Regions from separate parts of the Homo sapiens genome. Here regions 1 and 2 are each reported to be linked to region 3. Evidence: microRNA targets listed by miRTarBase, many of them from high-throughput screens and not tested one by one. Region 3 holds a microRNA gene; each other region holds the end of a gene's coding sequence.

Region 1 (4,183 bases), not on the chromosome of region 3:
TGCCAAACCTCCTTCGCCCTGTGCGCCAGGTCAGTGACTTGCCCACAGGGAATGTGCTGGGAGTTAGGAGGCACGTCCTGGGTCCTGGGTCCTGGATCCTGGGTCCCTACCTTTGACTGTCCGTCTGCTTCAGGTACAAGCAGTCAGTTCTCGGCAGGGGCCGACCGGGCAACTTCCCCCCTTGTGTCCCTCTACCCTGCTTTGGAGTGCCGGGCCCTCATTCAGCAGATGTCCCCCTCTGCCTTTGGTAAGCCTCCTTTGTCTGGGGGGATGGAGGCTGCTAGGAGCTGGGAGAGACTGGAAGAAGTGGCAAGTCCTGAGAGGGGCTTTCTGGAGCCTCTGGCCATCTCCCCAAGAAAAGAAGGGAGAGGCACTGGAGGGGATTTTTCAGATCCAAGGAATTTGCCCCAGAAGGGTCTGGGGTCTAAGTGGGGTTTCACAGGCCTAGCAGATCCTTCTGTTTTGAGAAAGGAGTGAGAAGGGCCCTATGGGATTTCTCCAGAGCCCCAGATGTCGGCACAGGGTGAGGAGAAGGCAGGCTGAGAGCGCTCCATCATCCTTTTCCTCTTCCTCTCGCCCAGCAGGTCTGAATGACTGGGATGATGATGAGATCCTAGCTTCGGTGCTGGCAGTGTCCCAACAGGAATACCTAGACAGTATGAAGAAAAACAAAGTGCACAGAGACCCGCCCCCAGACAAGAGTTGATGGAGACCCAGGGATTGGACACCATCTCCCAACCCCAGTACTCCTGCTCTCCGGTGCCACCTCACCTTCTTTGGCTTCTTCCCTCTTGCCTCCTTCTGTTCTTTCTGCTCTCCCCTCTTTTCCCTCCTCCTCACTTCCCTCTGGCTAGCCCACCCCTGCACTCTCTCTCATTGCCGCTGCCACTATCACCTGTCTCTCTGCCAGCTGATGTGCCCTGTTGCCCCCCACCCCATCCCGCACAGAACCATCCCTGCATTCCACAGGGGACTCGGGCAAGGGTGCCGAAGATAGACAAGAGGCACACAGAGACAGACCAACTGGCAGCCAGGCAGCCCCAGAGGAGAGAGACATTCAGACAGAGGAAAGTCTCCCTGCCCCTCATTCCTTCCAAGATGAGAAAAACTTGCCGCCACCCCCCGACACTGATGCCAGGGAGGTGGGAGGAAGAAGTGGGAAATTTCCCTTCCCAGTACCCCCAAGAACGTCTGAGCCTTCAATGTTGAATTTTTTCTTTATTAAAATTACTTTTATCTTATAAAATCAACTAATCAAAAATGATATAGACGACAGCACTGGCTCTGTGAAGGTGGCATCTTTCTGGGCAGGCAGGCCATGGGGCATGGAGGAGGGTGCAAAGATATGGGTTGCTGTCTTCTGGCCTCCAGCTGCATGGAGGCCGGCCCAGGGTCTAGGGTGTGCACTGGGCAAGGGCAGGGCGGCAGGTGTCAGGCCGGCTTGGACAATGAAACCCTGACCTTGCTGCATTCCTTTTGCTTCCACCACCACTAGCTTCTTTGGAATCTTGGGGTGGGGGTCATCTTTGGGGATTATGGCTGCCACCCGGGATTTGAGTGTAGGGAGTGTGGGAGCAGCCTTGGCAGATGGGGCACCCGTGCCCTGCAGGTGTTGACAAGATCCGCCATCTGTAATGTCCTTGGCACAATAAAACCAAATGTCAGTTTCCCTGAGCGACTCTGTTCTGTGTGGGGCAGGGGTTGGGCGGGCCTCTGGGCAGAGGATGCAATGGCACGGACCTTGGCTTGACCTCAGAGGTGTGAATGCTCTCCAGCAGGGTCTGTCTGGGGGCCTGGAGTTTGTATTTGATTTGCTGCTTATTAAACCTCCTTCTGGACCTATTGCCACTGGAAAAGCTGCGTCTTTGCCTGCTGACCCCACCCCTGCCTACCCTATTTCCTGGGGGGGGGGGGGTGATGGTAGCAGAGGACTGTGAGCTTGAACTTCCTGCCTGAATTCCAGCTTCTCCGCCTGCCTCTCACCATGAATGCTGCTCTTTCCTTATCATGATCTGATGAAGAAAAGCCTTGGAAAAGTGCAACTGATACTTTGTAGCAACATGAGTTTAGTGGAAGTAACCAGAGGGGCCTCACCCACTAGGTTTTAGAAGGTGAAGGACGGCTAAACCCTTTTTTGTTCTTGTCCCCCAGTCTGACACCTCTTTGCCTGTCCTCCCTAGGGGTAAATCCAAGGTAAAGAAGGCTGGCTGGCCCCCAGGTTTTCTCAAGCAGCTTTTTCACCATGCCATGATAATGGAGACCCTCTGACAGGATGTGTGTCTGGTTCTGCAGTTGAGGGCATGGCTAGCTGAGTGGCTGTCTGCGGAGTGTGTCTGGAACCCAGTGGCCAAGCATCTATTTGTTGTAGAGTTGCTTTGAAACCTTCCTGGCCCTGGTCAATTGCTTCTCTGTTTCAAGTGTCTCATCTGTACAAGAGGTGATTAGGCTGGGTGCAGTGACTCACACCTATAATCCCAGCACTTTGGAAGGCTGAGGTGGGTGAATCACCTGAGATCAGGAGTTCGAGACCAGCCTGGCCAACATGGAGAAACCCCATCTCTACTAAAAATACAAAAATTAGCCGTTCATGGTTGTACGTGCCTGTAATCCCAGCTACTTGGGTGGCTGAGGCATGAGAATCGCTTGAACCCAGGAGGTGGAGGTTGCAGTGAGCCGAGATTGCGCCACCACACTCCAGCCTGGGTGACAGAGCGAGACTCAGTCTTAAAAAAAAAAAAAAAAAGTGATATCTACTCCCTCATGCTTCTGCTGTGATCATCTAGAGGGAATATGTATGATCAAAGTAACGTACTACCTGGGCACAGTGCTTGGCACATTGAGAGAGCACAAATGTTAGTAGTATTCTTTTTGTAGAAGTTTCTGCACCATTTGGCCCCTGCCAATCTCTCGCCGCTCTGTCCAGTGTTCTTGGCCTTTGCCTGCAATTTGCCCTCCCCTGTCCTGAGCCACCAACCTTCTTTGTCTTTCAAGACAGAGGGTCACCTGCTGAGAAGCCCATTCACATTCTCACTTCTATCTAAAAATCTCCCCAGTAGCTGTACTACAGATAAACTTCATGGCACGGGTTTGATGCCTGACTTATCTGTACATCTCTGATACCAACATCCCCATCAAGGCCTGGCAGGCTTATAGCAAACCACCCCCAATAACGTTGGGTGAACAAAGGAGAGTACATGTGTGCTTTTTTGGTGTTGTCTGTGTGTGTGTGACTGTGGTGAGTCCAAGTCTTCATGTGCAGCTCACAGAGTGTCCCCAGTTGTGTGTGTGATGAAGGGCTTGTTTCCAGGTGTGTCAGATGGTGACTGAGTGTGGGACTCTTATCTCTGACAGTTTGTGTCTAAATCCAAGATGCGTGCATGCCTGCGTGGGTCTGTCTGTGACAGTGCATCTGTGGTTTCTGTCTGATGGGGTGGATGTCCGTTTGTGTTCCTGCAACAGATTCTGGGTAGCTATTTCTGGACAGTTTGTTCCATTGATAAACTGCATGTGTCATGGTGTATGTATGTCTGTGTCTGAACAGGTCTATCCATGTCTGTTTTTGTGACACTGCCACAAAATGTGATTCTATCACATCAGTACATGTCTGCCTTCAGAGCAGTGCATGTGTGTCCCTGGAGCATCTGTGCATCTTCCTGTGACAGACTCTGCGTCTCTCATTTCTGGGACAGTACAAGTCTTGCTGTGACAGTGCATATCTGATGGTGACAGTGTGTTTGTGACAAGTTCTGCCAGTGTGACGGGACATTTCTGTGTCATCACATGGCAAATGTAGGTCTGCGTGAGTGCCTTTCTGTAACAGTGTATCTCTGGGTGTCATTCTAGGACATAACTATTTTTCTGACAGTGTGCTTGCCTGAAAGTGTATGTCAGTCTCTGGCTGCATGTGTATCTAGGTCGTTTCTGTGAATGTGTCTGACAGTATGTGTTTGTGTATATCTTGGCATTCATGTGTCTTTGGAGTGCATTTTTCTTCCTGGGGTGTGGCGCCTTTTCTGGCTGTTTTTCACAAATTTGTGTCTGAGAGTTGCCACTTCTCTAGCAGCCTCTATCATGTCTCTCAGTCCTTGCCTCTCTCAACTCCAAGAGCAGCCCCATGCCACCACCACTCTGGGCTCACCCCCATCCCCCAAGAACCACCCCCTGCTGTTCTAGATTCTAGACT
Region 2 (4,183 bases), not on the chromosome of region 3:
TCCTCCCCAGCTCATCAGAGACCCCAGAGCTTCTAGAACTTTCCAGTCAGACCAGCCTGCCCAACCCCAGGTAGTGAATAACTGGAGGAATCTGAGATTGGGCCTCTGAGCTCGGCCACTACAAGGCCTGGAACTATAAGTGATCCCTTCTATTCTTTTGCCTCAGTCTCCTCTTTTGTAAGCTGAGGATAAGAATGCCTGCCCAGCTTACTCCCATTCCCGGGCCTGAAATCTACCCACCCCACCGCCCATGAACATCACCATGACATGAAACAGCCAGCCAGGGGAACTGCCTCTGAAAAGCCCCAGAGAATTCCTGAAGCCTGATGATGGTGGGGGACCTGTGGCCATCTGGACTATGGTGACAGCTGGAGTACCACAACAGGGGACTGGGCGTCACCAAGACTTCACCTCTTGGCAGCTTGGCTTAGAGAGGCTGTCACCCCTTCTATCCTTCGCAGCTCCAGTACCTGAATCGCTACTACCAGACCATCCGGGAGAAGGTGGGTCCAGAGCTGCAGAGGCGCCAGCTACTAGAGGAGTTCGAGTGGCTTCAACAGCACACAGAGCCCCTGGCCGCCAGGGCCCCAGACACCGCCTCCTGGGCCTCTGTGTTAGTGGTCTCCACCCTTGCCATCCTTGGCTGGAGTGTCTAGAGGCTCCAGACTCTCCTGTTAACCCTCCATCTAGATGGGGGGCTCCCTTGCTTAGCTCCCCTCACCCTGCACTGAACATACCCCAAGAGCCCCTGCTGGCCCATTGCCTAGAAACCTTTGCATTCATCCTCCTTCTCCAAGACCTATGGAGAAGGTCCCAGGCCCCAGGAACACAGGGCTTCTTGGCCCCAGATGGCACCTCCCTGCACCCCGGGGTTGTATACCACACCCTGGGCCCCTAATCCCAGGCCCCGAGATAGGAAAGCCAGCTAGTCTCTTCTCTTCTGTGATCTCAGTAGGCCTAACCTATAACCTAGCACAGACTGCTACAGCTGCTCCCCTCCCGCCAAACAAAACCCCAAGAGAGCAATGCCCCTACCACCCAAGGGTGCCATGGTCCCGGGAGAGCCCAAACCTATCACCACCTGTTGGGCATAGCCAGAGCTGTTCCCACCCAGCCAGGGCATGAAACATCAACCCCCCACATGTGAACCCATCATTCCTAAACCCTGGGTAGGCTCCATGCCAAGTAACAGCAGAGGGAGTTAAGCCATAGGAATTTGGCTGTGGAGTAAGAGGGAATGCGGTGAGGCACTCTGGAATATGACCCTACCAGAGGTTGGAGAACAAACTTGGGCAGCCGGAACCCGTCACTATTCTAGACTTCCCTGGCATTCGAGGAGCCCTTTGAACTTTCCAAAGTGCAGCCACAGCTACAATGCTGTTAAATCCTCCCACATTCTTGGATGCCCCTTCACCTTGTGTGGACAGTGTCTGGTTTCTCCATTTTACAGACAGGAAAACTGAGCTTCAGACAGGGGGTGGGCTTTGCCTAAGGACACACAAATTTGGTTGGGAGTTGATGGGGCCAGATGAGCCAGCATTCCAGCTCTTTCACCCTTCAGCAACATGCAGAGTCCCTGAGCCCACCTCCCAGCCCTCTCCTCATTCTCTGAACCCACTGTGGTGAGAAGAATTTGCTCCGGCCAAATTGGCCGTTAGCCACCTGGGTCCACATCCTGCTAAGACGTTTAAAACAGCCTAACAAAGACACTTGCCTCTGGGTTTTGCATTGTGTCTGCTGTGTTGCCGGAGACTGCTGTCACCTGTGGCTTTTGTGGTGGGGGAGGAAGAAGAGAGGGTGAGGTGGGGGTGGGGACATGAGGCTCCTAGAAGCTCAGTGGGGGAGCACGTGGGCTTGAGAGTATGTGTGTGAGCATGCATATGAATATGTGTGCGCATGTGCACAGATGCACGTGCACACCACGCCCAACCAGCCAACCTCCAGCCTGTCTAAAAAGGTATTGTAACCTTGTGGAAGGGACAGAAAGGAGCCCTACACTGGGGAACTTGTCAAATGTAATCCAGAAAAGTTGGGGCTGGCACCTTTGCCAAGCAGCGCACAGTTGGTGGAAGGAAAGAACCAAGGTGCAGGGTGCCAGGCAAAGGCACCAGGCAGAGAAGTCTCCTGGCCTGAAACCATCAGGCCTAGTCTGCTGAGTGTGAGGGTGACCTGTGATGGTTACCATCACCAGTGCTTGCATCCAGAGGCTCCAGCCCTGACCAAGCCTTACTGAGTATCCAAAGATGGGCCTCTGTTTGCTAAATAATTTGCTCCCTCACCTGCTCACCCCACAAAGACAGGTACTACTAATAAAATTAAAGTCATCATCACCCTCATCATCATCACCATCATCATCATCATGGCTGCCATTTACTGAGTGTTTATGTGCCACCGTGCAAGAAGCTTTACATGCATTTTCTCATTTAATCCTCACAACCTCTGAGAAGGCCCTTTTCTTATTCCCATTTTACAAGTGCAGGAACTCAGTGAGGCCCATAGAGATTTATCAAGTGACTCAAAGTCACTTTTTTCATTGGGTAAATGAAAAAAAGCCAGATTTAAACCAGTCAGAGGACTCTAGAATCCACTCTCAAGAAAGGGCAAGTCCTGGCCGGGTGTGGTGGCTCACCCCTGTAATCACAGCACTTTGGGAGGCCGAGGTGGGAGGATCACATGAGGCCAGGATTTCAAGAGCAGCCTGGGCAACATGGTGAAACCCCATCTCTACTGAAAATACAAAAATTAGCTGGGTGTGGTGGCGCACACCTATAGTCCCAGCTACTCGGGAGGCTGATGCAGGAGAATCGTTTGAACCCAGGAGGCGGAGGTTGCAGTGAGCTGAGATCGTGCCACTGCACTCCAGCCTGGGCAACAGAGCGAGACTCCATCTCAAAAAATAATAATAATAATAAAATAAAGAAAAATAAAGGGCAAGTGGTATGGCTTTCATCATTTTACTGACAAGAAAACTGAGGCTCAAGCAGGAGAAGCAGATCCACACCATAGTGCCTCCCCAGACCCTGCCAGACCTTTGCCTTTGCACCCTGACACTTGCTCCTGGGGTTCTGGCAGGTCATGGGTGGCAAGACCAGGCACCTGACCAACACCCTCACACAGGCCTTTCGGACCGAGGCAGCTCGTGCTTTTTTCCTCAGTGCGAGACCCAGGACTCCACCTCATCTCTGAATCCCCTTAACTGCCCCTTCCAGCCTACCATTCTGGGAGGAAGAACCCAGCCCTGGAACGTGGCTGGAACGAGGGCTCACAGTCACCCCAGCTCTTCCCTCCCCTGGGACCCAGATGGCCAGACTTGACCATTCCTGCTTTAAGGGATTAACTCTGGGTCAGGCAGGGAAACAGGGCACATACACCAGGGCTGATACACAGGGACTCTTGTGACATCGTTAGGAATGAAAGATTGTTAGGAACTGTCCCCTTGGGCTCTAGTACTTTGTTTTAATGTTGGAGGATGGGGCTTAGCAAACCTCTCCTCGCCTGCTGATTGCCTGGGGAGCCGGCCATGTGGAAAAGCCCCTTTTCCTAGGAGTTAAGATTCTGGGGTTTGAGTCCCATTTGTGCCAGCTGTGTGGCCTTGGGCAAGTCACTTCTCCCTGGTCTTCAGTTATCCTTTCTGGAATCTCCCATGCTGCCTTCTTGGTGAGGTTACAGCGAGAGGCTCATGAGACCCGGATGTGGCAGCACTCTAAACCAGGAAGCCACACAGACAAGAAATGATATTGCTGTTATTTGCCCAGCACAAGTTCAATTCAGCTTCACCTTTGCAGGTAGGTAAGAAAAAGGTCTGGAACCCAAGTTTTATATATAAATAGCCAAAATTAGAAAGGCTCTAGAGCAAACATCTAATTTACGTCTTTCCAACTATGCTCCCGGGAGCCTGAGATGCCTCAGAAACACCACAGGGGCTGTCGAGGAAAACAGAGCTGCTGCACGAAGTAGCCCTGACGGGCTTCCCGTAAAATTGTACTTGAAGTAGTTGCAGGGCCAGCTTCACGGGTGTAGGACCTGTGCAGTCCCTCAAGACTTTGTGCTTACAAGGGCCCCATGCTTGGTTTAATGCTCGCCTGTCACTGTCTCAAAATTCTTGATAATTTTTAAGCAAGAGGCACCGGGCATTTTCATTTTGCACAAGGCCCGCAAAATTCAAGAGCCAATCCTGAATAGG
Region 3 (4,183 bases):
ACTTTCCAGGGTGGGTATGTATTACATTTATAATTGGGAATACCAATGTCCCTAATAAATCATCTTTATGTTTTGCAGAGGGTCACATTCATCCCAGCTGTGCCCCCTCCTGCCACACCTCACTGGGCTGTGCCCTGTCCTCTCCCAGGCCCTCCTGCCAGGGGAAGACTCCAAAGGACTGGGGCATTCCCTAGACCGTTCCCCTTCAGCTCCACGAGTCCCCTGCAGAGGGCAATGCTTAACACCATGGCAGAAGCAATTAATGGCAGAGCAACAGACATCCAAGTCAAAGCGCAGTGGGCTAAACCTCTCAAAGGACGACCACAGGGGCAGAGGTGGGAACCTCTTGGGGATGGAGGCCCTGATAGGGCCTTGTGGGACCTCACTGTCCACAGTCCCTTGGGCAGCACTCTGTAGCCCCCACCTCCTCTAACTGCCCACAGAGCCCTTCAGAATACAAGCACGGGGAGGGGTAGAGAGAGAGCCCTGGACCCAGAAGAGGGCACCTGGGACATGGTGTCTAATTCTGATTGCTATGTGACCTTGGGGCCAGCCCCTCTCCTCTCTGGACCTCAGTTTTGTCATCTGTAGAGTGGGGAGGGAGCTGGCTTAGGCCCCATATCTCAGCAATAGTGTCTTGACACTGTCTAAGGGAGACCAGCCTAGGGCATGTCCTGGGTAGGGTGGACAGCTACATCTCGGGAAGAAGAGGGTGTGGAGAGGCCGGCAGAGGCCCGTGTGGACAGAATGACCAGATGGCGCCCCCCTTCCCCAGCTCCACAGTCCTTCACTTGACGGACAGACATGGTGGGGTGTCAACTCCATGCCAGGCTCTCGGGTCTGAGAGAGGTCCCCCTGTGGTCCCTGCCCTCCAGGAGCTCACAGTCTAGCTGGGGTCAAGGAGAGCAGATAGGCACACAGATCCAGAGCAATGCAAGACAAAACCAAGCCAAGGACATGGCGGGCCGGAAGGGACACAGCCAGGCAAAGGTGGGAGGTGGTCCAGTGTGATGGTAGCGGGCGGGCCGGGCCAAAGCTCAGCGCCCACGAAGGGAGAAGGTGCCTGAGTGGAGGGTGACAGAGTGGAGTCTTTGCTTGGTGTTCAATAGGAAGCCGCTGAGAGTATTTTTGGGTGGAGGGGGAGGAAGGAAGAGAATATCTTTTGAGCATTCATGATGTGCCAAGTTCCATCTGAGCCACTTTTCGCTCAGCTGTCACAGTCTGTGAGGTGGTCAGCCTCACCCCATTTCACAGATAGGGCATCAGCTCAGGGGGTCACCTCTGCATTCAGCCCAGGAAGGCAGAGCTGGGATGGGAGCTGGTCTGTGGCTCCAATCTTGTGCTTTTTCCACCTTGTGGACAAAGTTGGTGGGAGAGCTGTCTGGGGCAGCCCCAAGGAGAGAAAGGGGGGCCAGAGCGTGGTGGGGAGCTGCCAGCTATCCCATGAGTGGGAGGAAATGGGAGCCCAGGCTCAGGGAACACTGTGGTTTCCGTGGATGGTACTGTCTGTCCTGTCCTGCCCAAGCTTCTGTCCTGTCCTGGTCCTGTGGAGGGGATGTTCCTTGGTCTCTGACCTGGCAGCAGAGAGTGGCCAGGACCTTCCCAGCTGCAGGCTCAAAGCCCATCCTGGCCTTGGGCCTGTCCTGAACAGCAGGAGGTGGCTTTCCCTTGCCCTGAGCTGGTCTAGATGGTGGCAGTCTCGGAGTCAAAGCCTTCTGCTGTGGCTTGTGGGGTATGCTGAGCCATAGGTAGCAGAACTGGGAAGCCTCCTTTTACAAAATGGGGTTTCTGAGCCCAGATAAGGCGAATGACTGAAGTTGCAGAGGGTGTAGGACAGTAGGGGCTGGACCTAGGGTTCCTTGATCTCTTGCGTGTGACCTTTTAGGCCTCTCCCTGGATAGGGAGAGGGGAGAGTTCATCTCTTCTAAAAGGGTTCCTTCAGTGGGGAGAGGCTGTGAAGAAGGGATGGAGGCTATTTCTGGGGGCTATTATCTGCCTCCAGGCACAAGCACTAAACAAAGCCAAAACGATTCCCAGCCCAGACACAGTCCTTCCATTATTATTGTTATTAATGCAGTTAATAACACACGCTCACAGAGCACGAGGCAGTAGGCAAAGTGTCCCCCTCACAACAGCCCCCTGAGGTAGGTTTTGGCGCAAGTTCAATCCCCAGCCCCTCCACCCACCACTTTCTGGCTCAGAGAGCTTGAGTGATGGCCCAGGGTCACACAGCTGTGAGTGGTGGAGCCGGGACTTGAACCCGTGCTCTATCCACTACACCCCGCTGCCTCTCATGGAGAAGAGGCAGGGTAGTGTAATGGAGAGAGTGCGGGCCGAGTAGCAGACTGGGCCTTCTGCAGTCACGGTGTCGTCCTAGGCTCCCTGGAGACGGTGGCAGTGGTGGCAGGTCCGGCTCTCCCATGCCTGGCCTTCTGCTTGGTGGGGTGGGCAGCAGGTCCTGGGATGTGGGCAGAGTCCCAAGAGGGTTTACCGATGTCCTGCATGACCTCATGCTGTTAGTGCTCTGGCTGGCAGGGGGAAGGGAGGAGGGTGTGTCGGGGTCTCGCGGGGGTTGAGCCATCGGGCCTGCTGGAGCCAGGCCTTGCTGTTTTTTGAAGACAGCCCCGCCATCCTGGCCCCCTGGCTCCAGCCCCTTCCACTGCCACATTGATGGCATCTAGTCTAGTCCTGCATTTCCCAGTGGAAGTTACTACAAGGAGGCAGGCTCCTGCATGGGGGCTACAGGAAGAGCCCAGAGCTGGGGTCTGGCTTCCGCCCTGCCCCTGCCCTCTGTGGGGCCTTACACTTCTGCTCTGGGTCTCAGTTTCCCCAGCTGCAAATTGGGATAGGACCAGGGTCCTCTAGGGATCATTGAATCCCCTGAAATGTTGCAAGATGAGGAGTCTGGGCATCTGTTCCTTATAAGAGGGGTCACTGCTTTAGTGGAACTCTCACGGAAGTTCATGACCTAGGAGGGTTTAAAAAACACTGGCTTTCCATGAAGACAATGAAAAGATGAGGCGCTGCTCCATGCAGGAGACCAAAGAGGCAGGACATCCAAGTGGCATGCAGGACCCCACATGGATCCTGGCCTGGAGAACGCTGCAGGCACAATTGGCAGAATGTGAATATGGATGGCACAGCAGGTAACAGTACCGAATCAATGTCAAGTTTCCTGAATTGATGGCTGTGTTGTGGTTATGCATGAGAATACCCTTGCTCTTGGGAGACACACCTGCAGTGTCTAGCGGGAGAAGGCCATCACATCTGCATGATGAGGAGGAGAGTGAGATTTGTCAGAGAGCAAAGACGGCAAAAGGTTAGCAACAGCCGAATCAGAGTGAAGGGCATGCCCGTATTCTTTGTGCCATCCTTGCAACTTTTCTGAAAGTTTGAAATTATCTTAAAATACAAAGCTAAAAAATAGGCCTAGGTCAGAGTTTGCACTCTAGGTCCCACCCATATGTGGCTTGACCCATAGGGACCTTAAAATGTGGGAATTTCTTGCCAATACTTAAACATTGAGAGCTGGTACAGGGAAATCTGGATTTCTGGCTCCTCTTGCAAAGTGAGCACTGAGGTCAGATTGGGCTGGCGCTTCTGCAGGCAGCAACAGGAAGCAGCTGTGGTTTGGGTTTGGCACCTGTGCTCTCCCTACCTGGCCCTGCAGACATATGAGTTTGCAATTTCTGAATATTTTTACTCTGTCCCGTTTGAAGATACACCAGACATGGGCTCGTGTCTGCCTGTCCGTCCCTGGAGGGTAGGAAGGTAGGGGAAACCTGCCTGGTTTTGATGATTTCCTTGGTGCCCTGAGTGTTGAGGTCATTTGAGTCTTTCTGAAGGCTGGTCTGCCCTCACTTGTCAGATGGGGAAACTGAGGTTCTGAGGGGCAGAGGCCACAGTGGGAGCTGTTGGAGGGCTGGAACCTGGGCATTCTGCCTCCAGATGCCACATTCCTTCCACACCATACAGCACCTCACAACCGCAGGGTTTGTTTGCAAAGGACAGTCACACGTGTGCATGCCTGTGGTCCCCACAACAGCCCTGTGGGGCAGGCAGTGGAGGCCTCACCAGCTTCCCCATTGCACTGACACAGACACAGAGGCTCAGAGAGGTGAAGGGACCTGTCCAGGGTCACAGGCCAAGCATGGTTGGACCAACTGACCAGAGCGGAGTGTTT

What was found. Region 3 holds the annotated microRNA hsa-miR-885-3p (AGGCAGCGGGGUGUAGUGGAUA, at 2,269-2,290, opposite strand). A microRNA usually pairs through its seed, bases 2 to 8, with sites in the 3' UTR of a target mRNA and lowers its output. Matches are read on the target gene's strand: a 7mer-m8 pairs with bases 2 to 8, a 7mer-A1 pairs with bases 2 to 7 and ends in A, and an 8mer does both.
Region 1: miRTarBase lists OTUD5 as a target of hsa-miR-885-3p. Seed matches in the 3' UTR shown: 8mer at 881-888 and 7mer-A1 at 1,539-1,545.
Region 2: miRTarBase lists XPNPEP2 as a target of hsa-miR-885-3p. The part of its 3' UTR that is shown has no 7-base or 8-base seed match.

The regions. Positions count from the first base shown.
Region 1 is chrX:48,919,697-48,923,879 of GRCh38, reverse strand. It overlaps OTUD5 (OTU deubiquitinase 5), which reads left to right. Exons shown (of 9, transcript NM_001136157.2): 7 at 1-29; 8 at 134-247; 9 at 585-1,856. The coding sequence ends at 706. Among named protein-coding and RNA genes, the nearest start is that of PIM2, 2.8 kb to the right of the region's middle. RefSeq lists enhancers at 1-377, 1,922-2,806, 3,500-3,559.
Region 2 is chrX:129,767,830-129,772,012 of GRCh38, forward strand. XPNPEP2 (X-prolyl aminopeptidase 2) reads left to right here. Exons shown (of 21, transcript NM_003399.6): 21 at 462-1,707. The coding sequence ends at 656. Among named protein-coding and RNA genes, the nearest start is that of SASH3, 10 kb to the right of the region's middle. RefSeq lists an enhancer at 576-1,076.
Region 3 is chr3:10,392,231-10,396,413 of GRCh38, forward strand. MIR885 (microRNA 885) reads right to left here and starts at 2,332; the gene lies at 2,259-2,332. All of the region lies in intron 5 of ATP2B2 (ATPase plasma membrane Ca2+ transporting 2), which reads right to left. RefSeq lists an enhancer at 2,867-3,463.